Linked DNA regions of Homo sapiens: regions 1, 2 and 3 are each linked to region 4. The links come from fine-mapping of genetic effects on gene expression. A gene starts in region 4. Each other region holds a variant in brackets. All regions are shown on one strand. Distances are from middle to middle.

Evidence for each region. PIP is the estimated chance that this variant, and not a neighbour inherited with it, causes the effect.
Region 1: its variant is fine-mapped to the expression of SLC1A5 in whole blood (TOPMed, PIP above 0.99). The same link has a PIP of 0.9 or more in blood mononuclear cells.
Region 2: its variant is fine-mapped to the expression of SLC1A5 in whole blood (INTERVAL, PIP above 0.99).
Region 3: its variant is fine-mapped to the expression of SLC1A5 in esophagus mucosa (GTEx, PIP above 0.99). The same link has a PIP of 0.9 or more in transverse colon.

Annotation. Positions count from the first base shown.
Region 1 is chr19:46,819,821-46,827,350 of GRCh38, reverse strand. No RefSeq gene overlaps it. Among named protein-coding and RNA genes, the nearest start is that of SNAR-E, 7.1 kb to the left of the region's middle. RefSeq lists enhancers at 5,432-5,491, 5,662-5,781. The variant C/G (reference allele first, on the strand shown) is at 4,708.
Region 2 is chr19:46,805,840-46,813,369 of GRCh38, reverse strand. It overlaps the pseudogene HNRNPMP2. Among named protein-coding and RNA genes, the nearest start is that of SLC1A5, 21 kb to the right of the region's middle. The variant T/C (reference allele first, on the strand shown) is at 3,296.
Region 3 is chr19:46,761,173-46,768,702 of GRCh38, reverse strand. No RefSeq gene overlaps it. Among named protein-coding and RNA genes, the nearest start is that of STRN4, 18 kb to the right of the region's middle. RefSeq lists a silencer at 6,957-7,251. The variant C/T (reference allele first, on the strand shown) is at 3,755.
Region 4 is chr19:46,786,619-46,793,973 of GRCh38, reverse strand. SLC1A5 (solute carrier family 1 member 5) reads left to right here and starts at 5,380. Exons shown (of 8, transcript NM_005628.3): 1 at 5,380-6,574. The coding sequence starts at 6,009. RefSeq lists silencers at 5,063-5,222, 6,193-6,242, 6,253-6,302 and enhancers at 5,168-5,462, 5,111-5,712.

The sequences.
Region 1 (7,530 bases), 33 kb before region 4:
TGTTTCAGGAAGAGATACAAAATACAAAAGTTAGCCAGATGTGGTGGTGGGCACCTGTAGTCCCACCTACTTGGGAGGCTGAGGCAGGAGAATGGTGTGAACCCATAGGTGGAGGTTGCAGTGAGCCGAGATCGTGCCACTGCACTCCAGCCTGGGCGACACAGCAAGACTCTGTCAAAAACAAAAACAAAAAAACAAAAAAACAAATACAAACAAACAAACAAAACCCCATCACAGTAATGATGGAAGTAGTTTTGGAGGTGGCAAAAGCTGTAGTAATCTTGGCCATAACAGCAATCAGTCTTCGAATTTTGGATCCATGAAGGGAGGAGGATTTGGAGGCAGAAGCCCTGGCCCCTATGGTGATGGAGGCCAATATTTTGCCAAAACATGAAACCAAGATGGCTATGGCAGTTCCAGCAGCCCTGGTGGCCAGGGCGGTGGCAGAAAGCTTTAGTTACTTTGGGGAAATGAAGCTTAGCCAGCAGACAGAGCCAGGGAAATGACAGGGAAGCTCAGGTTACAAACAGACTTGTGAACTCAGCCAGGCACAGGGGTGGCAGGGCCTGTCTGTTATGAAGAAGGTGTGTTTTTTGTGTTTGTTTGCTTTTTTTGAGACGGAGTCTCGCTCTGTCGCCCAGGCTGGAGTGCAGTGGCGCGATCTCGGCTCACTGCAAGCTCCACCTCCCGGGTTCACGCCATTCTCCTGCCTCAGCCTCCTGAGTAGCTGAGATTTACAGGTGCCAGCCACCACGCCCGGCTAATTTTTTTTAATATTTTTTAGTAGAGACGGGGTTTCACCGTGTTAGCCAGGATGGTCTTGATCTCCCAACCTTGTGATCCGCCTGCCTCGGCCTCCCAAAGTGCTGGGATTACAGGCATGCGCCACCGCGCCCGGCCGTGTTTGATTTGAGACAGGCTCTCACTCTGTTGACAAGGCTGGAGTGCAGTGGCATGATCACAGCTCACTGCAGTCTCAACCCCTGGGCTCAAGCAATCCTCTCACCCCAGCTTCCCGAGTAGCTGGGACCACAGGTGCGTGCCGCCATGCCTGCCTATTTTTTTTTTTTTTTTTTGAGACACAGTCTCCCTCCATCGCCCAGGCTGGAGCTCACTGCAAGCTCTGCCTCCTTAGTTCATGGGAGTCTCCTGCCTCAGCCTCCCGAGTACCTGGGATTACAGGCGTGAACCACCACATCCGGCTATTTTTAAAATATTTTTAGTCGAGATGGGGTTTCACTATGTTGGTCAGGCTGGTCTTGAACTCCTGACTTCAAATCATCCACCCACCTCAGCCTCCCAAGGTGCTGGGATTACAGGCGTGAGCCACCACCCTCGGCTCCTGATTTTTTAATATTTTTTAAAGACGAAGTTCCACTATGTTGCCTAGGCTGATCTCAAACTCCCTGGCTTAAGCAATCCTCCCGCCTTAGCCTTCCAAAGTGCTGGGATTGCAGGCATGAGCCACCATACCCAGTGGAAGATGTATTGGAGACAATACTCATGTATATGGACAAAAAACAAAAACAAAAAACTCCAGGACTGTATTTGTGACTAATCGTATAACAGGTTATTTCAGTTTCTCTTCTGTGGAAAGTGCAAAGCATTCCAACAAAGGGTTTTAATGTAGATTTTTGTTTTGCACCCATGCTGTTGATGGCTAAATATAAGTGTCTGATGATAATGTTGAATAAAAAAAAAAAAAACAAAAAAAAAACCTTAGAGGAAGTTTTGCTATAAAGGGAGAAGAGAAATAGTCGCTAGAGGGGGGAATGAGATTGGAGGGTGTTTGGTGGAGTGGATGATATCACAGCAGGTTTTTGTTTTGTTTTGTTTTGTTTTGTTTTGAGACAGATGCCCAGGCTGGAGTGCAGTTGTGCGATCTCGGCTCACCGCAACCTTTGCCTCCTGGGCTCCAGCGATTCTCCTGCCTCAGCCTCCCAACTAGCTGGGACCACAGGCGCCCGCCACCATACCCCGCTAATTTTTTGTATTTTTAGTGGAGACTGGGTTTCGCCATGTTCGTCAGGCTGGTCTCAAACTCCTGACCTCAAGTGATCCGCCCGCCTCAGCCTCCCAAAGTGCTGTGATTACAAGTGTGAGCCACCGCGCTCAGCTCAAATCATCAGTTTTATGCTGATGGGGATGATGCAACAGACAAGGGGAAACCGGAAGATGCAGGAAAGAGATGGGAGAGGGATGGAAGGCGCAGCTGGGATTATCCAAGCACACGAGAGGCATCTGGGAGGAAGGGGTGCGTGGGCGCCAAGGCAGGTGGTGGTGGTGTTGGTGTGGGGAGTTCCCAAAAGTCCCTACTCCAATGACTTCCTTCTTCTCAGTGAAATGGGAAGCAAGAGTAAGTCTCAGTCAGCTGAGAGTGACAGCCACTCAAGTTGGTGCCCTTAAGACCACGCGGGTGGTGGAGCCTGTGGAGTGGAGATCACCTGTCTTTTATTTTCTTTTAAGACATGGGGGCCAGACGTGGTAGCTCATGCCTGTAATCCAAGCACTTTGGGGGGCCGAGGCAGGCGGATCATCTGAGGTCAGCCTGGCCAGCATGGTGAAACCCCATCTCTACTAAAAATAAAAAAGTTAGCCGGGCATGGTGGTGCACGCCTGTAATCTCAGCTACTTGGGAGGCTGAAGCAGAGGCCGCAGTGAGCTGAGATCGTGCCACTGCACTCCAGCCTGCGTGACAAGAGCGAGACTCCATCTCAAAAAAAAAACAAACCAAAAAACTTAAAAATACTCTGGGGTGGCAAACGAAATGTGGTGGCTGGATGGAGCCCTCAGGCCATGTGTTTGCAACCCTGGTGCAACTGCACTAAAGCACAGGCCAGAGTCAGTTCTGGGCTTTTGAGGGGCTCCAGGGTTTAGAGAACAGAAAGTCGAAGAGGAACCTGAGAAAGCCACCAAACAAGGAAGCTTCTTGTTTTTGTTTTTGTTTCTTTTTGAGACAGACTCTCACTCTGTCTCCCAGGCTGGAGTGCAATGGCGCGATCTCGGCTCAATGCAACCTCCACCTCCCAGGTTCAAGCAATTCTCCTGCCTCAGCCTCCCAAGTAGCTGGGATTACAGGTGCCCACCACCATGCCTGGCCAATTTTTGTATTTTTAGAGACGGTGTTTCTTTTTCTTTCTTTTTTCTTTTTTTTTTGAGACAGAGTCTTTCTCTGTCGCCAGGCTGGAGTGCAGTGACGCCATCTTGGCTCACTGCAACCGCTGACTCCCTGGTTCAAGGAATTCTACTAACTCAGCCTCCTGAGTAGCTGGGATTACAGGCACGTGCCACCATGCCCAGCTAATTCTTTGAATTTTTAGTAGAGATGGGGTTTCACCATGTTGGCCAGGATGGTCTCCATCTCCTGACCTCGTGATCCGCCCACCTCGGCCTCCCAAAGTGCTGGGATTACAGGTGTGAGCCACCGTGCCTGGCGGTTTTATTTGTTTTTTGAGACAGGGTCTCACTCTGTTGCCCAGGCTGGACTGCAGTGGCACTATCATGGCTCATTTCAGCCTTGAATTCCCAGGCTTGGGTGATTCTCCCACCTCAGTCTCCTGGGTAGCTGGGATTACAGGTGTATGCCACCAAGTCTGGCTAATTTTTTGTGTTTTTTGTAGAAATGGTGGTTTCAAGGCCGGGCGCGGTGGCTCACGCCTGTAATCCCAGTACACTGGGAGGCCGAGGTGGGCAGATCATGAGGTCAGGAGATCGAGACCATCCTGGCTAACAAGGTGAAACCCCGTCTCTACTAAAAATACAAAAAAAAAAAAAAAATTAGCCAGGCGTGGTGGCGGGCGCCTGTAGTCCCAGCTACTTGGGAGGCTGAGGCAGGAGAATGGTGTGAACCCAGGAGGCAGAGCTTGCAGTGAGCCAAGATCGCGCCACTGCACTCCAGCCTGGGCAACAGAACGAGACACAGTCTCAAAAAAAAAAAAAAAAAAAGAAATGGCGGTTTCATCATGTTGCCCCGGCTGGTCTCAACCTCTTGGGCTCAAGTGATCTGCTCACCTCTGCCTCCGAAAGTGCTGGAATTACAGGTGTAAGCCACCGAGCCCAGCCTCAAGGAAGCTTCTGAACTGTTAGGGGGAGCTCCTGCTCTAGGCCCAGCAGCTTCCAAGGCTTTAAAGGCATAATCCCATTTAATCTTGTAATGACGCTGTGAAGTGGCTCTTGGTATTAGCATTGCAATTCTGAGTATTATCTCCTCTTTGTAGATAAGGAAGATCATTTGCCCAAGGACACACAATGAGCAGATGAGACTGGAACCCAGATTTCTAGAGTGCTAGACTCTGTGTCTTCCCATTCACTTTATTTTTTATTTTATTTTATTTTATTTTTTTGAGACAGAGTCTCACTCTGTTGCCTAGGCTGGAGTGCAGTGGCACGATCTCAGCTCACTGCAACCTCTGCCTCCCAGGTTCAAGTAATTCTCGTGCCTCAGCCTCCCCAGTAGCTGGGATTACAGGCGTGTGCCACTATGCCTGGCTAATTTTTGTATTTTTAGTAAAGATGGGGTTTCACCGTGTTGGTGAGGCTGGTCTCAAACTCCTGACCTCAAGTGATCTGCCCACTTTGGCCTCCCAAAGTGCTGGGATTACAAGCGTGAGCCACCGTGGCCAGCCATAAAATTTTTTTTTTATTATAAAATATCTGGGCTTTTTTTGTTTTTTGTTTTTTAGTTGGGGCCTTGCTCTGTCACTCAGG[C/G]TGGAGTGCAGTGGTGCAATCTCAGCTCACTGCAGCCTCCGCCTCCTGGGCTCAAGTGATCCTCCTGTTACGGGATCTTTGGGGTGTTGCTTTTCTGGCCAGAAACCTCTGTGGCTGCAGTGCCTTTGCCCAAGTTCTTGTCCTGTGTCCAGGAAGAATGAGGTACACAGACAAGTGAAGGGTGAAGAAGATGAATAGGAGCTTTATTTAGTCTTAGAACAGCTCAGAGGAGACCGTCAGTGGGCAGCTCCTCTCAGTAGGCAGGTCACCCCATCGAGTGTTCAGCTCTCAGCAGAGATGAGGCCCTGAAGAGGGTGGTTCCTCTCGGCAGGCAGGTCATGTAGGCGTCTCTGCAGGTCTCTGAAGCTCTCAGTAGAGAGGGTAGCTCCTCTGTGCAGGTGGTAATCCCATTGTCTCTCTGTCCTCTGCCCTCTGCCCTGCTCTGGTGGAGCCTGGGGCTTTTATGGACCTCAGAGAGGAGGAAGTACGTGCTGGTTGGTCCATGGGCTGCCATGCGTGGGCCCAGAGGAGGTACAAGTCCCCACTCTTGTCTGTGGGGTTGGCAGCCTGGCCCCCAGCCTTCAGGCCCTCCCTGGCAAGAAGGTGGGGCCTTACTAGGGACCCCCCACCAACTTCTGCCCAGGAATCCGTCTGCCTCCTGCTGCCATTCATGGCCCCAGGACTGGACCCCAACCCCGATCCCAGATCAGAGCTGGCGCTGGGAGAGAAGAGAGGCCAGGCAGCAGGAGAAGACACCCAGCAGTCTGCAGAGATTGGGGGGGCCTTCCCGGCCTCTGAGAGTGCAGGCTGCAGAGAGGCCCAGGTCCTCAGCCTCAGAGGGCGGCCACAGCTGCATCCGGGGAGCTCCTGCCCTGCCAACTCGGAAGGGGTGGGGCTCCCACTTGTCCCCGGCTCTTGCTCACTCTGTGGAGCTGGAGGCCTAGGTTGGCAGCCATGGGGGCAGCTGCAGCTGCACCCGGGAGGGCAGACCCTACCTACTTCTGGCCCCTGCAAGAGCACAGGAAGGCTCAATCCACAGTGGCGGTTTGGGCGGCTGCAGTGGCATCTGGGGAACTCCCACCACAGCTCAGAAGGGGCAGGGCTTCCACCGGCTCCATGGAGTGTGTAGCCCCAGCCGCACCTCCCTGCTGCAGCCGGTGTAATGACAGCAGCCACTGCCATCACTCCTGCCTCAGTCTCACTAGTAGCTGGGACTACAGGCGTGCACCACCACGCTAGGCTGATTTTTAAAATTTTTAGCAGAGACAGGGGTCTCCCTATGTTGCGCAGGCTGGTCTCGAACTACTGAGCTCCAGCTCGGCCTCCTGCCTCAGCCTCCCAAAGTGCTGGGATTACAGGTGTGAGCCACTGCGCCAGGCCTAAAATAATTGTTTTGGTTTTTCTTTTTGTTTGAGACAGTTGTCTTCTGTTCTGCACACGCAGCAGGAAATTGGATCTCTACCTCACAGCATACTCAAAAGAGTTGAAATATAACCTATTTGTAGTTATCAGCGACCTGGGTGAAGACACACCTGGCAGAAGGGTGTGGTAGCCTCATTAAACATGAGTGAGAATGAATTCCAGGTGGAGATGGGAGAGATGATTTATTTGCTAGCTGGGGAAAGAAGAGGCAGGCCCAGCCCAGAGGGAGAATGAGAGGCGGAAGATGACATTCGCTGCATGCCTGACACCTGCCTGAAGTTAACCAGGGTCAGCCCGGCCTTTCCTCCCCCGGGATGTCTCCAACTCGGCTGACAACATCCACTTTAATTAATACAGCACAGCAGGACACTTCCTGTGTACAGCTACACGCTAAGGGCCAGGAGTAGCCTAATGTCCTTGAGCCCCAGAGAAACCATCGTGTGTTCAAGCATGCTGTCTGGAAACTTAGAAAGGGCTCATGACTCCTCTCTGCTTTCACACCCCACATCCCATCCAGGGGAAATCCTGTTGACCTTCAAAATGCACCCGAAGTCGGACCCCCCAAAGGCTGGACGCCGTGGCTCACGCCTGTAATCCCAGTACTTTGGGAGGCCTAGGCAGGCGGATCACCTGAGGTCAGGAGTTCGATATCAGCCTGGCCAACATGGTGAAACCCCGTCTCTACTAAAAAATACAAAATTAGCCAGGTGTGGTGGCACACGCCTGTAATCCCAGCTACTCGGAAGGCTAAGACAGGAGAATCGCTTGAAGCTGGGAGATGGAGGCTGCAGTGAGCCGTGATCGCACCATTGCACTCCAGCCTGGACAAGACACAGCGAGACTCCACCTCAAAACAAAAACAAAAACAAAAACAAAAACAAAAACAAAGTCTGAACCCCCAGAGCTAGTCTAGCCATGATCATTTCTCACCTGGAAAATTGCAGTCACCTCCTCGCTGCTTCTGCCCTTGTCCCCAACAGAAAGGTCCCCATATGGCAGCAGAATCCTTTGACAGAAGTGACATGATGTCATTCTCCTCCTCAAATCCCTTCTGTGGCTCCTGCCACACTCACTAAAAGACAACATCTTCACCATGACTCACCAGCTCCCTGTTCTCTGTCTGACCTCATCTTCCACCCGCTCTTCCTCTGTTCCATGCAGACTGTGACTGGCTTTTTTTGTTTTTTTTTTTTTTTGAGACGAAGTCTCGCTCTGTCACCCAGCCTGGAGTGCAGTGCCGTGATCACGGCCCACTGCAACCTCTGCCTCCCGGGTTCAAGTGATTCTCCTGCCTCAGTCTCGCCTCCTGAATAGCTGGGATTACAGACGCCCACCACTACTACACCCAGCTGATTTTTTTTTGTATTTTAGTAGAGACGGGGTTTCTCCATGTTGGCCAGG
Region 2 (7,530 bases), 19 kb before region 4:
ACCCTCCTCCTTCCCTGCTCCCCACGGTAGCCCGAGGCTGGCACTTTTTATAGAACACTTCAAAAAATGTTAATAGGTAATTGAAGTCACATGGCTCATTTCTACAGTCACAGGAGGGGACACAGTGGAAAAACCTTCTCCTCTCCCCTGTTCCCTCCCCTCCAGGCCCCTCCTGGGAGGCACTGCGACCTCCGCTCAGCTTCCTTCATCCCATCCTCAAAGGCCCACGTGGGGAGGATGCCCGGCTCCAGCTGCCTCTGATGGGCCATAGGCCGGAGGTGGAGGCTCTGATGTGGGCAGATTAAAGGCCACGTGGGCCGGGCCACTGTGAGGGAGGCTCAGAGGAGAAGCAGGTTCCGAGGCATGAGTGTGCAGGGTGGAGAACAGGAGAGCCAGGCCAGGTGGGGAACCAGCAGAGGGGCCGGTTTCTTGTGTTTTCTCCCACAGAGAGTCACAGACTGTCTAGCAAATGCAAGCGCAGGTGGAGAAATGCTGCCCAGGTCATTCACATGTGTCTGCAACTTTCATTTATTTAATTTATTTATTTATTTGAGATAAAGTTTTGCTCTTGTCAGTCAGGCTGGAGTGCAACGGCACGATCTCAGCTCACTGCAACCTCCACCTCCCAGGTTCAAGCGATTCTCCTGCCTCAGCCTCCCAAGTAGCTGGGACTACAGGCATGTGCCACCAGGCCCAGCTAATTTTGTTTTCTGTTTTTGTTTTTGTTTGAGACTGAATCTTGCTCTGTCACCCATGCTGGAGTGCAGTGGTGCGATCTCAGCTCACTGCAACCTCCGCCTCCCGGGTTCAAGCAATTCTCCTGCCTCAGCCTCCCGAGTAGCTGGGACTACAGGCGCGCACTACCACATCCAGCTAATTTTTGTATTTTTAGTGGAGACAGGGTTTCATCATGTTGGCCAGAATGGTCTCGATTTCTTGATCTCGTGATTTGCCCACCTCGGCCTCCTAAAGTGCTGGGATTACAGGCCTGAGCCACCTTGCCTGGCCTCATTTATTTATTTTTGAGACAGGGTCTCTCTGTCTCTCTGTCTGTCACCCAGGCTGCAGTGTAGTGGCACAATTAGGGCTCACCTGCATCCTCCAACTCCTGGGCTCAAGCCATCCTCCCACCTCAGCCTCCTAAGTAGCTAGGACTATAGGCGTGCACCAGCACACCTGGCTAATTTTTTTTTCAAGAACCAGTATTTATTATCAAAATCATATTCAATGTCAAGAAGACACCATAACTACAAAAAAAATTGCGCACAGTGCAATCTCAAGGCAAACAGTCAAATGGAACACCAGTCATTTAAAAAAGTAATTAAATTAGCCCAAAAAGCAACTGGTTTTTTTTTTTTTTTTTTTTACCATCTTTTTCTTTTTTTTTTTTCTTTTTGAGATAGAGTTTTGCTCTTGTCGCCCAGCTAGAGCTCAATGGCACGATCTCTGGCTCACTGAAACCTCTGCCTCCCTGGGTTCAAGCTTTTTTAACATCTTTATACATCCAGCCAACAAATTAAAATGGTTAACAAGTGGTCTGGCGTGGTGGTTCATGCCTATAATCCTAGCACTTTGAGAGGCCAAGGTGTGTGGATCACCTGAGGTCAGGTGAGACCAGCCTGACCAACATGGTGAAACTAAAAATACAAAAAAAATTAGCCCCGTGTGGTGGTGAGTGCCTGTAGTATAGCTATTTGGGAGGCTGAGTCAGGAGAATTGCTTGAACCTGAGAGAGAGAGTTTGCAGTGAGTTGAGACTGTGCCACTGCACTACAGCGTAGGCAACAGAGCGAGACTCTCTCAAAAGTAAATAAATAAATAAATAAATAATAAAATGATTGGCCAGGCGCGGTAGCTCACACCTGTAATCCCAGCACTTTGGGAGGCTGAGGCAGGTGGATCACGAAGTCAAGAGTTCGAAACCATCCTGGCCAACATGGTGAAACCCCGTCTCCGCTAAAAATACAAAAAAAAAGAAAAAAAAATTAGCTGGATGTGGTGGCACGTGTCTGTAATCCCAGCTACTCAGGAGGCTGAGGCAGGAAGATCGCTTAAACCAGGGAGTTGGAGGTTGCAGTGAGCCGAGATTGCACCACTGCACTCCAGCCTGGCAACAGAGCGAGACTCTGTCTCAAAAAAAAAAAAAAAAAAAATTAAAATGCTAAATTAAAAAAAAAAAAAAAAAGCTGCCAGGCGCTGTGGCTCATGCCTGTAATCCCAGCACTTTGGGAGGCTGAGGCAGGCGGATCACAAGGTCAGGAGATCGAGACCATCCTGGCTAACATGGTGAAACCCCTGTCTCTACTAAAAATACAAAAATAAAAATAAATAAATAAATTAGCCGGGCGCGGTGGCGCGTGCCTGTAGTCCCAGCTACTCGGAAGGCTGAGGCAGGAGAAGGGCGTGAACCCGGGAGGCGGAGCTTGCAGTGAGCCGAGATCGCGCCACTGCACTGAGCCTGGGCGACAGAGCGAGACTCTGTCTCAAAAAAAAAAAAAAAAAAAAAGCCAGTGTGGTGGCTCATGCCTGTAATCCCAGCACTTGGGAGGCCAAGGCGGGTGGATCACTTGAGGTCAGGAGTTCGAGACCAGCCTGGCCAACATGGTGAAACCCCATCTCTACTAAAAATACAAAACTTAGCCAGGCGTGGTGGCACATGCCTGTGGTCGCAGCTACTTGGGAGGCTGAGGCACGAGAATCGCTTGAACCCAGGAGGCAGAGGTTGCGGTGAGCTGAGATTGCACCACTATACTCCAGCCTGGGCGACAGAGTGAGACTGTGTCTCAAAAAAAAAAAAAAGGAAAAGAAAAATAAAAAGGTTAACAAGAGGGCCGGGCACAGTGGCTCATGCCTGTAATCCCAGCATTTTGGGAGGCCAAGGGTGGGCGGATCACCTGAGGTCAGGAGTTCGAGACCAGCCTGACCAACATGGAGAAACCCTGTCTCTACTAAAAATACAAAATTAGCCGGCATGGTATTACATACCTGTAATCCCAGCTACTCAGGAGGCTGAGGCAGGAGTATCTCTTGAAGCCGGGAGGCAGAGGTTGTGGTGAGCCGAGATCGCGCCACTGCACTCCAGCCTGGGAGACAAGAGCGAAACCCTGTCTCAAAAAAAAAAAAAAAAAGTTAACAAGAAAAAATACAAATTCAGAGGTCTGGTATTGATGTTTAAAAAAGGCAACTGCTTAAGCATTTCTATTTATTTGAACATCAGTCTTGGCCATTCAGCTGCATGTTGTTCATTATCCGGCAGACTCTCTCAGCCACCTCTGGGGACGTAAACTTAACCACAC[T/C]GCACCCCTTGGACTTCCCGTTCTCCATTTCGATGTCAGTGTACAGCATGTGGCCATACTCGTTGAATTTGTCCTTTAGCATCTTCCATGTAAAATTGAATGGGAGATTTCTTACAAATATTTGGCATGCCTTCCTGGCCATGCCCAGGAGCATGGTCTCCTGCTCCACCAAGGGAACCTGCAAAGCTTCCAAAGTTGCCACACTCCATACCGATGGCATGGTCAAAGGTGGCACCGCCACTGCCACACATGGCCAGGCCCATGCACGTGAGGCTCTTGGCACCCATGTGCTCTAGGCCAGTGACCATGTGATCCATCATGGGGCCCATGTGCTCCAAGCCAGCCTCCATGCCTGCAAGCACCATGTGCTCCATGTTCAGGCCCACGTGTTCGATGGCAGGGCCAATGTGCTCCACGCCAGAGCCCATGTGCTCTATGGTCTGGCCCACATGGTCAATGGGAGCGGCCATGCGCTTGAGGCTGAAGCCCATGACACCTGGATAATTTATTAAAAATTTTTGTACAGACAGGATCTCACTATATTGTCCAGGCTGGTGCACCTTTTTTTTTTCCTTAAGCGTAAATTGGCCGGGCGCGGTGGCTCAAGCCTGTAATCCCAGCCCTTCAGGAGGCTGAGATGGGTGGATCACAAGGTCAGGAGATTGAGAACATCCTGGTTAACATGGTGAAACCTCGTCTCTACTAAAAATACAAAAAATTAGCCAGGTGTGGTGGCACACACCTGTAGTTCCAGCTACTCGGGAGGCTGAGGCAGGAGAATCACTTGAACCCGGGAGACGGAGGTTGTAGTGGCCCAAGATTGCACCACTGCACTCCAGCATGGGCGACAGAGCGAGACTCCGTCTCAAAATAAATAAATAAATAAATAGTAAATTTATTTATTCAACACAGGTTTACTAAGTACCTATTATATGCCAGGTGCTTTTCTAGGCACTGGGCATATGGCAAAAACAAAAACAAAAACAAAAAACAATCCAAAATAGATCAAGTTCTTACCCTTGTGGAGGTGACATTCTAGTGGGGGAGAAAGACAGTGCTGTACAGAAATACAATGACGGCTGGGCGAGTGGCTCACATCTGTAATCTCAGCACTTTGCGAGGCCGAGGTGGGAGGATCACTTGAGCCTAGGAGTTTGAGACCAGCCTGGGCAACATAGTGAGATTCCATCTCCAAAAAAAAAAAAAAAATTTAAAATTAGCTGGGTGCGGTGGTGCGTGCCTGTAGTTCAGATGGCTGAGATGGGAGGATCGCTTGAGCCCAGGGGGCTGCAGTGAGCTGCGATTGCGCCACTGCACTCCAGCCTGGGTGACAGAGTGAGACCCTGTCTCAAAAAATAAATAAATAAATAAATAAATAAATAAATAAATAAATAAATAAAATTAAAATTAAGGGAGTGAGCAGTGTAGAACCTTCCAGGCCATTTTCCAAAAGTTGGCTTTTGCTTTCTCTTCTTGAAGATCCATTTGTGTCTCAATGTGTGCTGTGCCCAGTTCTCAAGAGCAGATTGCTACACTTTTGGGAATTTCACAAACCAGTTGTTAAACATAGGTATTATTAACAATTAAATGATACAAAGTTACAGATAAATAAATTATGTTAAAAACAAATATAATAAATAGTTCAAATGCATTGCATCCTAATTGCTACATTTTTACTATTATCTATGCTCTCCAGGCTACTTATCTCTGCCTGGTGGAAATCCTGAGTGATAGTGGGTGGTTGCTTGTCTCTTCTGAATTCCACATCCAATGACATCCTATCAGTAACTAGAAATCAACCACAGTGGGAATATTTACACTGTAGAAATTGGCAAATGGTATAAATTAGGGCTGTTTCTTCCCTAGAGAGCTGGTGGTTAAATTAAAAAAAAAAAAAATATATATATATATATATTGGCTGGGCGCAGTGGCTCACGCCTGTAATCCCAGCACTTTGGGAGGCTGAGGCAGGCAGATCATGAGGTCGGGAGATCGAGACCATCCTGGCTAACATGGTGAAACCCCATCTCTATTAAAAATACAAAAAATTAGCTGGGCGTGGTGGCGGGCACCTGTAGGCCCAGCTACTCGGGAGGCTGAGGCAGGAGAATGGGGTGAACCTGGGAGGCAGAGCTTGCAGTGAGCTGAGATCATGCCACTGCACTCCAGCCTGGGCGACAGAGCGAGACTCCGTCTCAAAAAAAAAAAATTATGTATATATACACACACACACATATGTGTATATATATATATACACACACACACATATGTGTATATATATATATACACACATATATACATATGTGTATATACATACACATACACACATATGTGTGTGTGTATATATATATACACACACATACATACATATATATATATGGATGATTTTGCTCTGTTACTCAGGCTGGAGTGCAGTGGTGCAATCAGAGTTTACTGCAGCCTCGACCTCCTGGGCTCAAGCGATCCTCCCTCTTCAGCCTCCTGAGTAGCTGGGACTATAGGCACGTGCCACCACACCCAGCTAATTTTTGTATTTTCTTTGAGACAGAGTCCAGCTCTGTCGCCCAGGTTGGATGCAATGGTGTGATCTCAGCTCATTGCAACCTTCACCTCTTAGGTTCAAGTGATTTTCATGCTGCAGCCTCCCAAACAGCTCGGAATACAGGCACGTACCACCACACCTGGCTAAGTTTTGTATTTTTAGTAGAGACAGCGTTTTGCCACATTGGCCAGGCTGGTCTTGAACTCCTGGCCTCAAGTGATCTGCCCACCTTGGCCTCCCAAAGTGTTGGGATTACAGGCATAAGCCACCACACCCAGACAAATTTTTGTATTTTTTTGTAGAGACAGGGTTCTTGCTATGTTGCCCAGGCTGGTCTCAAACTCCTGGGCTCAAGCCCTTCTCCCACCTAGGCCCCCCAAAATGCTGGAAGTACACCATGCCCGGCCTGGTTAAGTATTTACCAGCACGCCAGTGCAATGCCTGTAAACGTGGCTCATTCTTTTCTACAGCTGTCTAGTGTTCCATAGCATGAATGGCCACAACATATTTTGCTGGTTCCTTCCTGGTATGTGCTTAGTTTGCTTCTAGTCTTTTGCTACTGCAAGCAGGGCTGTGGTGATTTTTCGCATGCAAGACAATAGCCGTGGAATAAATCCCTCAGAGAAGAACTGCTGTGTCAAAGGGTGTGGGAGGATCTAAAATTAAGGCCTTTTGCCTAATGGCTTTCCAGGGAGGCCGTACCAACTTCCACACCCACCAGCAAATGTGTGAGAGTGCAGAAGCTTCTAAACACAAACTTGATTGTGTCACTCTGCTGCTTAGACCCTTTGATGTTCCCCACTGATCCTGCATGAAGCCCTTCTCCCTTCAAGATACGATCCGGTGTTGGCCGGGTGCGGTGGCTCACACCTGTAATCCCAGCACTTTGGGAGGCAGAGGCAGGTGGATCACCTGAGGTCAGGAGTTCAAGACCAGCCTGGCCAAAATGGTGAAACCCTGTCTCTACTAAAAATATAAAAATTAGCCAGGTGTGGTGGCAGGCACCTGTAATCCCAGCTACTCAGGAGGCTGAGCTCAAGAATCGCATGAACCCGGGAGGTGGAGACTGCAGTGAGCTGAGCTCTTACCACTATACTCCAGCCTGGGCAACAGAGTGAGACTCCATCTCAAAAAAAATAAATAAAATGAAATTTAAAAAATGGCCAGGCGTGGTGGCTCACACCTGTAATCCCAGCACTTCGGGAGGCTGAGGTGGGTGGATCACCAGGTCAGGAGATCGAGACCATCCTGTCTAACACAGTGAAACCCCGTCTCTACTAAAAATACAAAAAATTAGCCAGGCGTGGTGGCGGGTGCCTGTAGTCCCAGCTACTCGGGAGGCTGAGGCAGGAGAATTGCTTGAACCCGGGAGGCGGAGGTTGTAGTGAGCCAAGATTCACCACTGCACTCTAGCCTGGGCAACAGAGCGAGACGCTGTCTCAGAAAAAAAAAAAAAAAAAAGAGTAAATTAAGCTATGATACGGGGTTGGAAAATTACAGCAATCTGGGAACAAAAGGAAGACAGTACTGGTGCCTCAGTTCCCCAGCTTAATTTTCCCTTTGACCTAGTGAATTCGGGGTCCTGAGATTCTACTTTGCTTTCACAATAGTCACGGCTTCTCCCTTTCTCTTGCAACTGAAAGGTGGCACCATGACCTCACCATGACCCCTTATAAATTTTGCATGGCAGCCA
Region 3 (7,530 bases), 25 kb after region 4:
GGCTTTCTTGGGCAGACGTCCCTGCGGCTTTCTGCAGTGCATTGTGCCCCTGGTTAATAGAGAATGGAGAATGGCGATGACTTTTACCAAGCATACTGCCTGCAAACATATTGTTAACAAGGCACATCCTGCACAGCCCTAAATCCATTAAACTTTGATTCCTTACAGCACATGTTTCTGTGAGCACAGGGTTGTGGCTAAAGTTACAGGTTAACAGCATCTCAAAGCAGAAACAATTTTTTCTTAGTACAGATCAAAATGGAGTTTCTTATATCTTGCTTTTCTACATAGACACAGTAACAGTCTGATCTCTCTTTTTCTTTTCCCCACACAGGCACCTGCCACCAGGCCTGGCTAATTTTTGTATTTTTTGTAGAGACGGGGTTTTGTCATGTTGGCCAGGCTGGTCCCGAAATCCCGACCGCAGGTGATTTGCCTCAGCCTCCCAAAGTGCTGGGATTACAGGAGTGAGCCACCACTGTGCCTGGCCATGCCCAGCTATTTTTAATTAGAAAAGGTTTTTGTTTTTGTTTTGTTTTGTTTTGTAAACAAGGGATCTCACTATGTTGCCCAGGCTGGTCTGGAACTCCCAGGCCAAAGTGTTGGGATTACAGGCATGCACCACTGCACCCAGCCACTGCTTTTTTTTTTTTTTTTTTTTTGAGATGAAGTCTCGCTCTTGTCCCCCAGGCTGGAGTGCAATGATGTGATCTCAGCTCACTGCAACCTCCACTTCCCGGGTTCAAGCGATTCTCCTGCCTCAGCCTCCCGAATAGCTGGGATTACAGGTGCCTGCCACCACGCCCGGCTAATTTTTGTATTTTTTTTTTTAGTAGAGATGGGGTTTCACCATGTTGGCCAGGATGGTCTCCAACTCCTGACCTCAGGTGATCCACCCACCTCAGCCTCCCAAGGTGCTGGGATTACAGGCATGAGCCACTGTGCCCAGTGTCAAACATTTTTTAAAACCAGTGGCTGGGTGGCTGGGCGCAGTGGCTCATGCCTGTAATCCCAGCACTTTGGGAGGCCGAAGCAGGTGGATCATCTCAGGTTAGTAGTTTGAGACCAGCTTGGCCAACATAGTGGAACCCCGTCTCTACTAAAAATGTAAAAAATTATCTGGACATTTGTAGTTTCAGCTACTCAGGAGCCTGAGGTGGGAGAATCGCTTGAGCCCAGGAGGCGGAGGTTGCAGTGAGCTGAGATCTTGCCACCGCACTCCAGCCTGGGCAACAGAGTGAGACTCTATCTCAAAGCTAACTAACAAACAGACAGTGGACTGTCATTAAAATGAAACCTGTGCAAATCTTGGGTGAAAGATGAAAACGGTGGGGTGGGGGCCCTCCTCTGCCACCTCCTCCAAATACTGGAACTTGGAATCTGGAACCCACCAATGTGGCCCCTGCACCCCGCAGGTGGAGAAACCCGGATGCCAGGCCAGGCCTGACGGGCGGTGATACATTAAGAGCCTCATTCACTGGGGAGCTTGAGCACTTTGGGTTCCATGGGGTTGGCTCCGGCCTGGCGGTGGGGATCCCTGGGCCTGCTGAGGGGTGCAGGAGCCCGGGTTGGTGCAAGGAGCTGGGCTCCAGTCACATACAGAACAAGCCACTTTATTTCCTTCCCCTGCTACGCCCTCCTTCTGCCCGTCATATCCCACATTCAAGCTACCAGAAATCTCAGTTTCTCTGCCCTCAAACCCCAAATCTGGCCCCTCTACACCTTCCACACTGGGTACCACCCTGGCCAGCTGCCATCATCTCCCACCTGAACTATTGCAATTGCCTTCACGCCGGGACTCCTGAGCCCCAACCTCTTCCGTCTGTTCCCCATATGGCCTCCAGAGGGCGCCTGTTTCCATCATGGCAGCTCGTGGCCCTCCGCAGCTCAGAACCCAGAGAAAAATCCAAGGTGCTCCCCATAGCCTCTGTAGGATGCGCCTTACTTCACCGACCTCACCTCTTCCCACTCTCCTCCTCCCTCTCTTACTCCAGCCTCTGCCATTCCTTGAACATGCCAGGCCTGCTGGTGCCTCAGGGCCTTTGCACAGGCTGTTCCTCTCTTGGCTGCTCTGCCCCCCAGATTTCCATTTGGCTCTTCCCACACCTCCCTCTCGACTTGGCTGCAATGTCACCTCAGTGAGCCTTCTCTGACCGCTTTATTTAATTCTACCACCCCTGCTTCCTGCCCCCACCCTCACCCACCCAACCCATACCCTATTCTACCCTTTTCTCTTTTTTTTTTTTTTTCTGAGACGGAGTCTCGCTCTGTCGCCCAGGCTGGAGTGCAGTGGCACGATCTCGGCTCATTGCAAGCTCCGCCTCCCGGGTTCACGCCATTCTCCTGCCTCAGCCTCCCGAGTAGCTGGGACTACAGGCGCCCGCCACCACACCCGGCTTTTTTTTTTTTTTTTTTTGTATTTTTAGTAGAGACGGGGGTTTCACCATGTTAGCCAGGATAGTCTCGATCTCCTGACCTCGTGATCTGCCCACCTCAGGCCTCCCAAAGTTCTGGGATTACAGGCGTGAGCCACCACGCCCAGCCCTTTTCCTCTTTTTTTTTTTTTTTTTTTTTTTTTTTATTAAGAGATGGGGTCTTGGGCAGACGCAGTGGCTCATGCCTGTAATCTGTGCACTTAGGGAGGCTGAGGCAGGCAGATCACTTGATGCCAGGAGTTCAAGACCGGCCTGGCCAACATGGCGAAACCCTGTCTCTACTACAAATACAAAAATTAGCCAGGTGTCGTGGTACACGCCTGTAATCCCAGCTCTTTAGGAGACCGAGACAGGTGGATCACTCGCTGTCAGGAGTTCGAGAGATGTGGCAAAAACCTGTCTCTACTAAAAATACAAAGATTAGCTGGGTGTAGTGGCGGGCGCCTGTTATCCCAGCTACTCGGGAGGCTGAGGCATGAGAATTGTTGAACCCGGGAGGCAGAGGTTGCAGTGAGCCAAGATCGCGCCACTGCACTCCAGCCTGGGAGACAGAGATAGACCCTGTCACAAACAAACAAACAAACAAACAAACAAACAGAGATGGGGTCTTGCTCTATGGCCCAGGCTGGCCAGGCTCATACTCCTGAGCTCAAGCAATCCTCCCACCTCGGCCTCCCAAAGTACTGGGATTACAGGCATAAGCCACCACGCCAGGCCTGCTCTACTTTTTTTTTTTTTTTTTAAAGACAGGGTCTTGCTCTGTTGCCCAGGCTGGAATGCAGTTTCATGATCACAGCTCATTTCAGCTTTGACCTCCCAGGCTCAAGTGACACTCCCACCTCAGCCTCCTAAGTAGCTGGGACTATAGGCCCATGCTACCCTGCCCAGCTATTTTTTTTTCTTAATTTTTGTTTTTTGTAGCGACACAGTCTCTGTATGTTGTCCAGGCTGGTTTTGAACTCCTGGGCTGAAAGGATCCTCCCACCTACGCCTCCCAAAGTGCTGGGATTATAGTTGTGAACCACCGTGCCCTGCCCTGTTCTCCTTTTTTAATAGCAACAGTCCCCTCCCAACAGACGATAGAATTCACTGGTTTATGATGTTTATTGTTTCCTGCCTGTCCCCACTGGGAAGGTCACTCTGTGGGGGAACCATCTTTGAATTGTTCACTGCTGTAGGCTCAGAGTCTAGCATAGGGTCCGGTGCATGCGTATAGCAGGAGCTCAATAAACACTCGTGGAATGGTGGAAGAGGCTGGTTCAGTCTCGACTCTGCTGCCTGGCAACTATGTGACCTTGGATGAGCACTGCCAGGTCTCA[C/T]CCGCCGGTGACAATGGCTCTCTTATGCCTCACCCAAAGGCTGCTAGTGCAGGTTACGTAAGAGCAGAAGAAAAGGCACTTTGACGGTCACTCCCTGGGTCCCAGTTCCCAGCTCCCACCTTTCTCTCCCTTTCTCCATTGCCCCACCCACCCCTCTTGCCTCTTTGAAGGAGCTTGGCCCAGGAAGGAGGGCCCAGGCTGGCCCCGGATTAGGGTTGGTCCTGGGTTCTAGGCTCAGAGTGGCAGTATGGGGACAGAAAGGCAGAGGGCAGTGACTCAGTTTTGTCTCTCTTAGAGACAGGTCAATGTTCTTAGGCCTGTTGGATTCTGCCCCCATCTGCTCTTTTTGAGGTCAACTTTATTGAGGTATAATTTACATACAATAGGCCGGGCAAGGTGGCTCACACCTGTAATCCTAGCACTTTGGGAGGTCAAGGCAAATCATTTGAGGCCAGGAGTTCAAGACCAGCCTGGCCAACATGGTGAAACTCCATCTCCACTAAAAATACAAAAATTAACCAGGTGTGGTTGTGCACACCTGTAATCCCAGCTACTCAGGTGGCTGAGGCATGAGAATCACTTGAATCCAGAAGGTAGAGGTTGCAGTGAGCCAAGACTGCACCACTGCACTCTAGCCTGGGCAACAGAGCAAGGCTGGCTCCAAAAAAATTGTTTCATATGATAAATTGCACCCGTTAAAATCAATTAGGCCAGGCTCATGCCTGTAATTCCAGCACTTTGAGAGGCCGAGGCAGAAGGATCGCTTGAGCCCAGGAGTTTGAGACCAGCCTGAGCAATGCTGCGAGACCCTGTCTCAAAATAAATAAATAAATAAATAAAATACAGTTAAATGAGTTTTGACAGATGAATATACTGTGAAAAACCACTCCCATAATCAAGATACATGATATTCTCATCATCCCCAAATTTCCTCATGCTTCTTTGCAGTCTGCCCCTCTCTCCAGCTCCAGGCCCCGGTAACCACTGATCTGCTTTTGGTCACTATGAATTAGTTTTACCTCTTCTAGAATTTTACATTGGTGGAATCATATACTATGTAGCGTCTTGCATCTGGCTTTTTTTTATGTGTCATAATGCTTTTGGGATTTATTCTTATTTTTGCATGTATCAGTAGTTTGTTCTTTCTTTTCTTTTCTTTTTTTTTTTTTGAGATGGAGTTTCACTCTTGTTGCCCAGACTGGAGTGCAATGGCACAATCTCGGCTCACTACAACCTCCGCCTCCCGAGTTCAAGTGATTCTCCTGCCTTGGCCTCCCAAGTGGCTGGGATTACAGGCATGTGCCACCATGCCCAGCTAATTTTGTATTTTTAGTAGAGACAGGGTTTTGCCATGTTGGTCAGGCTGGTCTTGAACTCCCGACCTCAGGTGATCGGCCCGCCTCGACCTCCCAAAGTGCTGGGATTACAGGCGTGAGCCACCACGTCCGGCCCAGTTCTTTCCTTTTTTAAAAAACTTGCTAAGGAGTATTATGTTGTCTGAGTGTACCACAGTTTGCTTATCCACCCACCTGTTGATTTACATCTGATGGTTTCCAGGTTGGGGCTATTGTGCATAAAGGTGCATTTGTAGACAGGTTTTTTATTTTTTATTTACCTTATTTTATTTTTGAGACAGAATCTTGCTCTGTTGCCCAGGCTGGAGTGCAGTGGTGCAATCTCGGCTCACTGCAACCTCCACCTCCCAGGTTCAAGCAATTCTCCTGCCTCAGCTTCCTGAGTAGCTGGGATTACAGGCACCCACCATCACGCCCGGCTAATTTTTGTATTTTTAGTAGGGATGGGGTTTCACCATGTTGTTCAGGCTGGTCTTGAACTCCTGACCTCAAGTAATCCGCCCTCTTCGGCCTCCCAAAGTGCTGGGATTACAGGTGTGAGCCGCCACACCTGGCTAATTTTTGTATTTTTAGTAGAGACGTGGTTTCACCATGTTGACTGGGCTGGTCTCAAACTCCTGACCTCAAGTGATCTGCCCGCCTCAGCCTCCCAAAGTGCTGGGATTACAGGCATGAGCCACTCGCCCCTCCTAAATTTTTTTGGTAGAGACAGGGTCTCAACATATTACCCTGGGTGGCCTCCACCTCCTGGGCTCATGTGATCCTCCAGCCTTGGTCTTCCAAAGCGTTGGGATTACAGGCATTAGCCACCACACCTGGCTAATGTAGACAGGTCTTTACATGCCACTATTGTTCATAGCAAATATTTTGTAACATGTAGGGCTGATAGACAAAATATTTACTGCTTGGCAAAGTCATCAGTCCATCCAACATCCGGGATATGGGTCCCTCTTATCTCCCACTATACCCAGTTTAACCCCTGGACTTCTGGGCCAGAGGGCAGCCCAGGGGATCCCCAGGGAGAGCTAGGAGGATACTAATAGTCAGGGGGTTCATGGCAGTGACCGTTTATGAATGAGTAAATAATCCATAATTTAGTGTTTTGCTGTCTTAACCACTGGCGTGGCCATACCAGGGCGTGTGCTGGCTTGAATGTCAGTTCTGGGAAAGTTCTCTCTGTTCTCCTGAAATGAAGTTCATAGACAGTATAACCCACTGGCACATGATTTAACATGATTTAAGAAAATCCTACTTTGGGAGGCCAAGGTGGGCAGATCACTCGAGTCCAGGAATTTGAGACCAGCCTGAGCAACATGGTGAAACCCCATCTCTACTTAAAATACACACACACACACACACACACACACACACACACGTATTTTTAGTAGAGATGGGGTTTCACCATGTTGGCCAGGCTGGTCTCGAACTCCTGACCTCAAGTAATCCATCCGCCTTGGCCTCCCAAACTGCTGGCATTACAGGCGTGCGACACCGCACCTAGCTAATTTTTGTATTTTTAGTAGAGACATTATATATATAAATATATTTATATATATATATATATAAAAGCTGGGTGTGGTAGTACTTATCTGTAGTCCCAGCTACTCGGGAGGCTGAGGTGGGAGAATCGCCTGAGCCTGGGAAGTTGAGGCTGCAGTGAGCCAAGACTGTGCCACTGCACTGCAGCCTGGGTGACAGAGTGAGACCCTGTCTCAGAAACAACAACAACAGCAGCAGCAACAAAAACGATCCTTGATTGCCCTAAATGTAATAAAAAGGAGAAATAAGAACATAGTAACTTACAATAAGCATTTCATTATGCGGATGTGTGGAGCCAGTCCCCTAGAACCCAAGGAGGTAGGCAGATGTTTATGCCTGTAATATAGACAGTTCCAACACATTGAAAACACGTGGACTGGTGTCCAATTACCAAGAGCCATGTGCAATGTGAGTTTTTTCACATGGTGGACAACCTTTGGCCAAGTTTTGAACAAAACACGATACAAGCTTCCCTCATTTTTTGTGGTAGTTGCACTTCCTGGAAGATTCCGAGGCTATTTAAAAACAAAAAGGACTTTGTACGTACAAGAGAGAGATTTTTGGCCAGGGTTTTCACCTCCAAGTAAGGCTAAAATTTAGTTGGTCTGAACTAGTATGGAAATACTGTTCTTTCTTGTTTGTTTTTGAGACAGAGTCTCGCTCTGTCACCCAGGCTGGAGTGCAGTGGCATGATCTTGGCTCACTGCAACCTCCGCCTCCTGGGTTCAAGCGATTCTCCTGCCTCAGCCTCCTGAGTAGCTGGGACTACAGGCGCCCACCACCATGCCCGGCTAGTTTTTGTATTTTTAGTAGAGACAGGGTTTCACCATATTGGCCAGGCTGGTCTTGAACTCCTGACCTTGTGATCCACCCACCTCGGCC
Region 4 (7,355 bases):
GTTGTGAACCACTGATCCCAGCCTGATTTATTATTGCAATTTACCCTTCATTCATCTAATTCCTCACTTTTCCTAATGCATGCATACATACATATATATTTCCCTCCACAGCACTTTCTGCTTTGTGACAATAAGTTACAAGCCAGATAACCCACTTAGCCTACATGCATATTATGTTTAGTATTTATTGACCGTGTCCTGCTGCTAGAATATCAGTGCTAGCAGAGAAGGGATTTTCATCTGTTTTGCTCGTGTTTTTCTCATCTGTTTTTCTTTGCCTTTTTTTCTTTTCATGCTTTGTCGCCCAGGCTGGAGTGCAGTGGTGCAATCTTGGTTCACTGCAACCTCTGCCTCTTAGGTTCAAGTGATTCTCCTGTCTCAGCCACTCGAGTAGCTGGGATTACGGGTAGGTAGCACCACGCCCCGCTAATTTTTGTATTTTTAGTTGAGATGAGGTTTCACCATGTTGGCCAGGCTGGTTTTGAATTCCTGGCCTTGAGAGATCCACCCACCTCAACCTTCCAAAGTGCTGGGATTCCAGGAGTGAGCCACTGCTCCCGGCTCCTCATCTGTTTTTCTCAGTGTTTGATAAATATTGGCCAGATGAGTCATCACAACGATCCCATGTCAGCTCATGGGCATCCGTCTCCTTCTATTTGATGTCTCTCAGTCTTCTATTCTGTGGATGTGGTTTGTTGAATGAATGAATAAATGAATCACCAAGCGGACAGATGCCTAGCTGAAGAGTGGTTTTCATCCTGAGGGAGGCCACTGGGGCTGTTCAGAGAGTAGGGGTGGCCCAGTTAGATCTGTGCTTTGAAATATTCCAGACTCTTCTGAAGTCTGGGATTTTTTTTTTTTTTTTTTTTTTAGACAGAGTCTTGCTTTATTGCCCAGGCTGGAGTGCAGTGGTGCAATCTTGGCTCACCGTAACCTCTGCCTTCTGGGTTCAAGTGATTCTCCTGCCTCAGCCTCCAGAATAGCTGGGATTACAGGCGTGTGCCATTAGTCCTGGCTATTTTTTTTACTTTTTATTTTCAGAAGAGACAGGGTTTTGCCATGTTGGCCAGGCTGGTCTGGAATTCCTGGTCTCCAGCAATCTACCCGCATTAGTCTCCCAAAGTGCTGGGATTACAGGCGTGAGCCACCATGCCTGGCCAGAAGTCTGGGATTTTGCATGTGCTATTCTCTTTGTCTGGAATATTCTTTCCCTGGGATTGGTCCAACTCCTTCATATCCCAGCTCCGATGCCTCCTCCTCCAGGAAGCTCTCCCTGACCCCCAAGCCTGGTCAAGCATCCCTTCTGGGCTCCCCCATCCCAGCCCTGCCCACTCTGTATCATCACTATCTGTGTCCCCCCCTGAACTTTGAGTCCCAGCAGAACGGGGCCAGAACTGTCTTGTTCGCCACTGGGTCCCTGGTATCACCCATCGCAGGACCCAACACTGGGCTCAGAATACATGACTGTCCCTTGAAGGAAATGTCTAGTTGGAGACAGCCGAGTGCAGGGGTAGCCAGGGTGTCTGATAGGAGATGCAGACAAGGATCAGAAACATCTGAGTTCAGATTTCTTGCTTATGCCTGGGGTTTGGGCCACAGCAAGCCTCATTACCCTTATCTGCTTCCAAATCAGGAAAATGGGAGTGTGAGCTGGTCTCCTGGATTAGTGGGGATAAAACCATGTCTGTGAGCACTGCTAACAGAGATGGAAACCTCTCTGTTGCCTCAGGGCTTCACACGCGTCCTTTGAATGTTTCCACATTATGCCATGGGCTCCTTCTTATCTTTCAGATCTCAGTGCAGATGTCACTTCCTTCCAGTGGCTGAACTGTTCACTCTGTCACTCATAGGATGCTTTTGCTTTCTCCCAACGCTTAGTTCCAGCTGACAGCCCAAGTTTATTGTCTTGTCTCTTCCGCACTAGAATGCACGCTCTAGCAGCCAAGGATTTTGTGTGTGTGTGTGTGTGTGTGTGTGTGTGTGTGATACAGAGTCTGGCTCTGTTGCCCAGGCTGGAGTGCAATGGTGAGATCTCAGCTCACTGCAACTTCTGCCTCCCAGGTTCAAGCGATTCTCCTGCCTCAGCCTCCCGAGTATCTGGGATTACAGGCGTGGACCACCACACCCGGCTAATTTTTTAGTATTTTTAGTAGAGATGGGGTTTCACCATGTCGGCCAGGCTGGTTTTGAACTCCTGACCTCAAGTGATCCGCCCGCCTCGGCCTCCCAAACTGCTGGGATTACAGGTGTAAGCCACTGCACCCGGCCAAGCCCAAGTTTATTGTCTTGTCTCTCTGCACTAGAATGCAAGCTCTAGCAGCCAAGGAATTTTTTGTTTTTTTGTTTTTTTTTTTGATACAGAGTCTCACTCTGTTGCCCAGGCTGGAGTGCAGTGGTGTGATCTCCGCTCACTGCAACCTCTGACGCCTGGGTTCAAGCAGTTCTCCTGCCTCAGCCTCCCAAGTAGCTGGGACTACAGCCGCCCGCCACCACGCCCAACTAATTTTTGTATTTTTAGTAGAGACAGGGTTTCACCATATTGGCCAGGATGGTCTCCATCTCCTGACCTCATGATCTGCCCACTTAGGCCTCCCAAAGTGCTGGGATTACAGGCATGAGACACTGTGCCTGGCCTATTTTCATGTTTTTGTATTTTTAGTAGAGATGGGGTTTCACCATGTTGGCCAGGCTGGTCTTGAACTCCTGACCTCAAGTGATCCACCTGCCTTGGCCTCCCATAGTGATGGGATTACAGGCGTGAGCCACCGCTCCCAGCCTAAATCTTTTTTCCCTTTAGACTGAGTCTTGCTCTGTCACCTAAGCTGGAGTGCAGTGGTGAGATTACAGCTCACTGTAGCCTTGACCTCCTGGCTCAAGCGATCCTCCCGCCTCACCCTCCTAAGTAGCTGGGACTATTGGCGCATACCACCACACTCAGCTTATTTTTTAATTTTTTTGTAGAGACGGAGTCTCGCCATGTTGCCCAGGCTGGTCTCAAATTCCTGGGCTCAAGTGAGCCTCCCACCTTGGCCTCCCAAAGTGCTGGGATTAAGGGTGTAAGCCACTGTGAAATTTTTTTTTTTTTTTTTTTTGAGACGGAGTCTCGCTCTGTCGCCCAGGCTGGAGTGCAGTGGCGTGATCTCGGCTCACTGCAAGCTCCGCCTCCCGGGTTCACACCATTCTCCTGCCTCAGCCTCCCGAGTAGCTGGGACTACAGGCGCCCGCCATCATGCCTGGCTGATTTTTTGTATTTTTAGTAGAGACGGGGTTTCACCGTGTTAGCCAGGATGGTCTCGATCTCCTGACCTTGTGATCCACCCGCCTCGGCCTCCCAAAGTGCTGGGATTACAGGCGTGAGCCACCATGCCCGGCCGAAAAATTTTTTAAAATATTTATTTATTTATTTTGAGACGGAGTCTCACTCTGTCACTAGGCTGGAGTGCAGAGGTGTGATCTTGGCTCACTGCAACCTCCACCTCCCGGGTTCAAGCGATTCTCCTGCCTCAGCCTCCTGAGTAGCTGGGACTACAAGTGCATGCCACCATGCCCAACTAATTTTTGTATTTTTAGTAGAGACAGAGTTTCACCATATTGGCCAGGATGGTCTCGATCTCCTGACCTCATGATCTGCCCACTCTGGCCTCCCAAAGTGCTGAGATTACAGACATGAGCCACCATGCCTGGCCTATTTTCATGTTTTTAAAGATAAGGTCTCACTATGTTGCCCCGGATGGAGTCTAGTGGCTAAATGTGGGCACGATCATAGCTCACTGCAGCCTTGAACTCCTGGCCTCAAGGGATCCTCCTGCTTTAGCCTCCCAAATACCTGGGACTACAGGTGCATGCCACTGAATCCAGCTTGTTCTTCAGTAATAATAACAATAACAGCAATCGCAGCAGTAGTATTTGACTTTCTTCTGAAGGGCATTTTTGTTAGAAACAAAAGAAGAGAGAAAGAACAAAAAATTTTAAAGCACAAATAAATAACTTTTTTTTTTTTGAGGTGGAGTCTCACTCTGTCACCCAGGCTGGAGTGCAGTGGTGAGATCTCGGCTCTTCGCAACCTCTGCCTCCTGGATTCAAGCAATTCTTCTGCCTCAGCCTCCTGAGTAGCTGGGATTACAGGCATGTGCCACCACACCCAGCTAATTTTTGCATTTTCAGCAGAGACAGGGTTTTGCCATGTTGGCCAGGCTCGTCTGGAACTCCTGACCTCAAGTGATCTGCCCGCATCAACTCCCAAAGTGGTGGGATAACAGGCGTGAGCCACTGCGCCCGGCCGTATTATCTCATTTGAACCCTTGCAACACTCAAGGCGGTATGACTTATTATTATTCCCATTTACACATATGAAGACTGAGCCTCATAGAGGTTGTAAATTACCTGAGGCCTCACAGCTGCTGTAGGAGGAAGCTTCTGACATTACCACTACAATCTTTGAGCAAGCATGAAAGCCTGAAATGTCACAGAACAGGCTAGAGATGGGAAAGGAATGAGGATTTCAACACTGTCAGGTGGAGTAAGGAATCATAATTCATTGTTAACCTCCCAAACGGCCACTAACAGAGAATTTGGGGAGGCAGCAGAGTGGGTGCGGTTAGGGGCTTGGGAGGTGGGCATGCACGTGTCATCCTCTCTAGGTGTGGCCTCAAGGTGAATGACTTCCTCTGCCTCTGGGGTTCAAGCGATTCTCCTGCCTCAGGCTTCCAGTAGCTGGGATTACAGGCACGTGCCACCACACCAGGTAATTTTTGTATTTTTAGTAGAGACGGGTTTCACCATGTTGGCCAGGCTGGTCTCGACCTCCTGACCTCAAGTGATCCGCCCGCTTCACCTCCCAAAGTGGTGGGATTACAGGCTTGAGCCACGGCTCCCTAAATAAATACATCAATTTTATTTAAATCTTACAGCAATCATATGAGACAAAAGCTTTTAACACCTGCACTTTATATTCGAGGAATTAAAGTTCTCAGAGGCGACTAAAGACCAAACTCAGGGCTGAGGAGTTCCAAAGCTGAGTTGAGTTGCAAATGAATCACCGAGGACCACCGGAGCTTTCTAGCGACCCTCGCACCAGGGAACGAACCCCTGTGGTTTAAGGGCTCCAACCCACAACCCAGTTCCTTTGGCGGGAAACAGCACCCTCCCAAGGCCCCGCCCCTTCCTGGCCCCGCCCCGTCGTCTCTGGGCCCGGCTCCTGGAGATGGGTATTATTAATCTGCCTTCTATGGGGGACCTGGCCCATCTCGGGTATCAGCCCCGCCCCTACTCGTCCAGTCTCCGAACGCTCTGCAGCCAATCGGCGCCCGAGGGTCGGTCCCCGCCTTCTCAAGCCCCGCCCCCTACCCTTATCCCTGGCAGCTTCCGCTAAACGGGCTCAGAGCCACGCGGCACGCCCGGGAGGCTTTCTCTGGCTGGTAACCGCTACTCCCGGACACCAGACCACCGCCTTCCGTACACAGGGGCCCGCATCCCACCCTCCCGGACCTAAGAGCCTGGGTCCCCTGTTTCCGGAGGTCCGCTTCCCGGCCCCCAGATTCTGGCATCCCAGCCCTCAGTGTCCAAGACCCAGGCAGCCCGGGTCCCCGCCTCCCGGATCCAGGCGTCCGGGATCTGCGCCACCAGAACCTAGCCTCCTGCAGACCTCCGCCATCTGGGGGCACTCAACCTCCTGGAGCCAAGGGCCCCACGTCCCACCCAGAGAAACTCTCGTATTCCCAGCTCCTAGGGCCAAGGAACCCGGGCGCTCCGAACTCCCAGCTTTCGGACATCTGGCACACGGGGCAGAGCAGAGAAGCCTCAGCGCCCAGCCTGGGGAATTTAAACACTCCAGCTTCCAAGAGCCAAGGAACTTCAGTGCTGTGAACTCACAACTCTAAGGAGCCCTCCAAAGTTCCAGTCTCCAGGTGCTGTTACTCAACTCAGTCCTAGGAACGTCGGGTCCTGGGAAGGAGCCCAAGCGCTCCCAGCCAGCTTCCAGGCGCTAAGAAACCCCGGTGCTTCCCATCATGGTGGCCGATCCTCCTCGAGACTCCAAGGGGCTCGCAGCGGCGGAGCCCACCGCCAACGGGGGCCTGGCGCTGGCCTCCATCGAGGACCAAGGCGCGGCAGCAGGCGGCTACTGCGGTTCCCGGGACCAGGTGCGCCGCTGCCTTCGAGCCAACCTGCTTGTGCTGCTGACAGTGGTGGCCGTGGTGGCCGGCGTGGCGCTGGGACTGGGGGTGTCGGGGGCCGGGGGTGCGCTGGCGTTGGGCCCGGAGCGCTTGAGCGCCTTCGTCTTCCCGGGCGAGCTGCTGCTGCGTCTGCTGCGGATGATCATCTTGCCGCTGGTGGTGTGCAGCTTGATCGGCGGCGCCGCCAGCCTGGACCCCGGCGCGCTCGGCCGTCTGGGCGCCTGGGCGCTGCTCTTTTTCCTGGTCACCACGCTGCTGGCGTCGGCGCTCGGAGTGGGCTTGGCGCTGGCTCTGCAGCCGGGCGCCGCCTCCGCCGCCATCAACGCCTCCGTGGGAGCCGCGGGCAGTGCCGAAAATGCCCCCAGCAAGGAGGTGCTCGATTCGTTCCTGGATCTTGCGAGGTCAGCTCCCGCTCCCCCGGGAGGTGGGGAAGAGTGTTACGGATGGCGGGAGTGGTCACGTGGACAGGACGGGGCTTTGGGGCCCCTGGAGCAGAGACTTCCCTCTAGAGTCTTAGGAAAACTCGACAGGATATTGAGGGGAGGCTCCAGCCCTCGGGAGTGTGAGTCTAGTCTCCTGGGGAAGGGGTTTCTAAATCTGGGGGCCTGGGTACATAAGTGGGGTCTTATAGAGGGAGAAGAAAGTGATTTGGGGAGACATAGGAGGGTCTGCCTAGGGGAGAAAGACACTGAGGGGAGGGGACCCCAGGAGGAACTTTTGCGGGGGGAATCTTTGCGTGGTCAAGGGCCCCAAGATGGGGCTTCTAGATATAATTTGGGGCCAGGGTTGGAGAGTTTGGGTAAGGAGCCCCTGGAGGATCTGAGATCTGAGTAACTCCCACCAGGCCCTCTTCCCAGCCCTGGGGCACCCCCACACCACGTGTCACTCGGACATAACCAGGCTCTGTTTTTGGCCTCCGCTTCCCGCCCATTTCAGCTGGGGTCTGGCCGCTTCCCCTTTATCTTTTAGATCAGCCCTGCCACCCCTGCCTTTCCCTCCCGTTTCCTCCTCTGTCTGGGCCACCCCCTAGCAGGCAGCCCAGAAGAGGACCAGTTAGAAAGGGGAGCAGATTCTTTTCCTTCTCCTGGCCTCTGCCCCGCGCCCCCAAGAATGGCCTCCCCCACTTTGAGGAGGGCGGGGGGCAGAGGCCCCCTTGCGCTTGCCTTTAGGGCTTGCTCATTC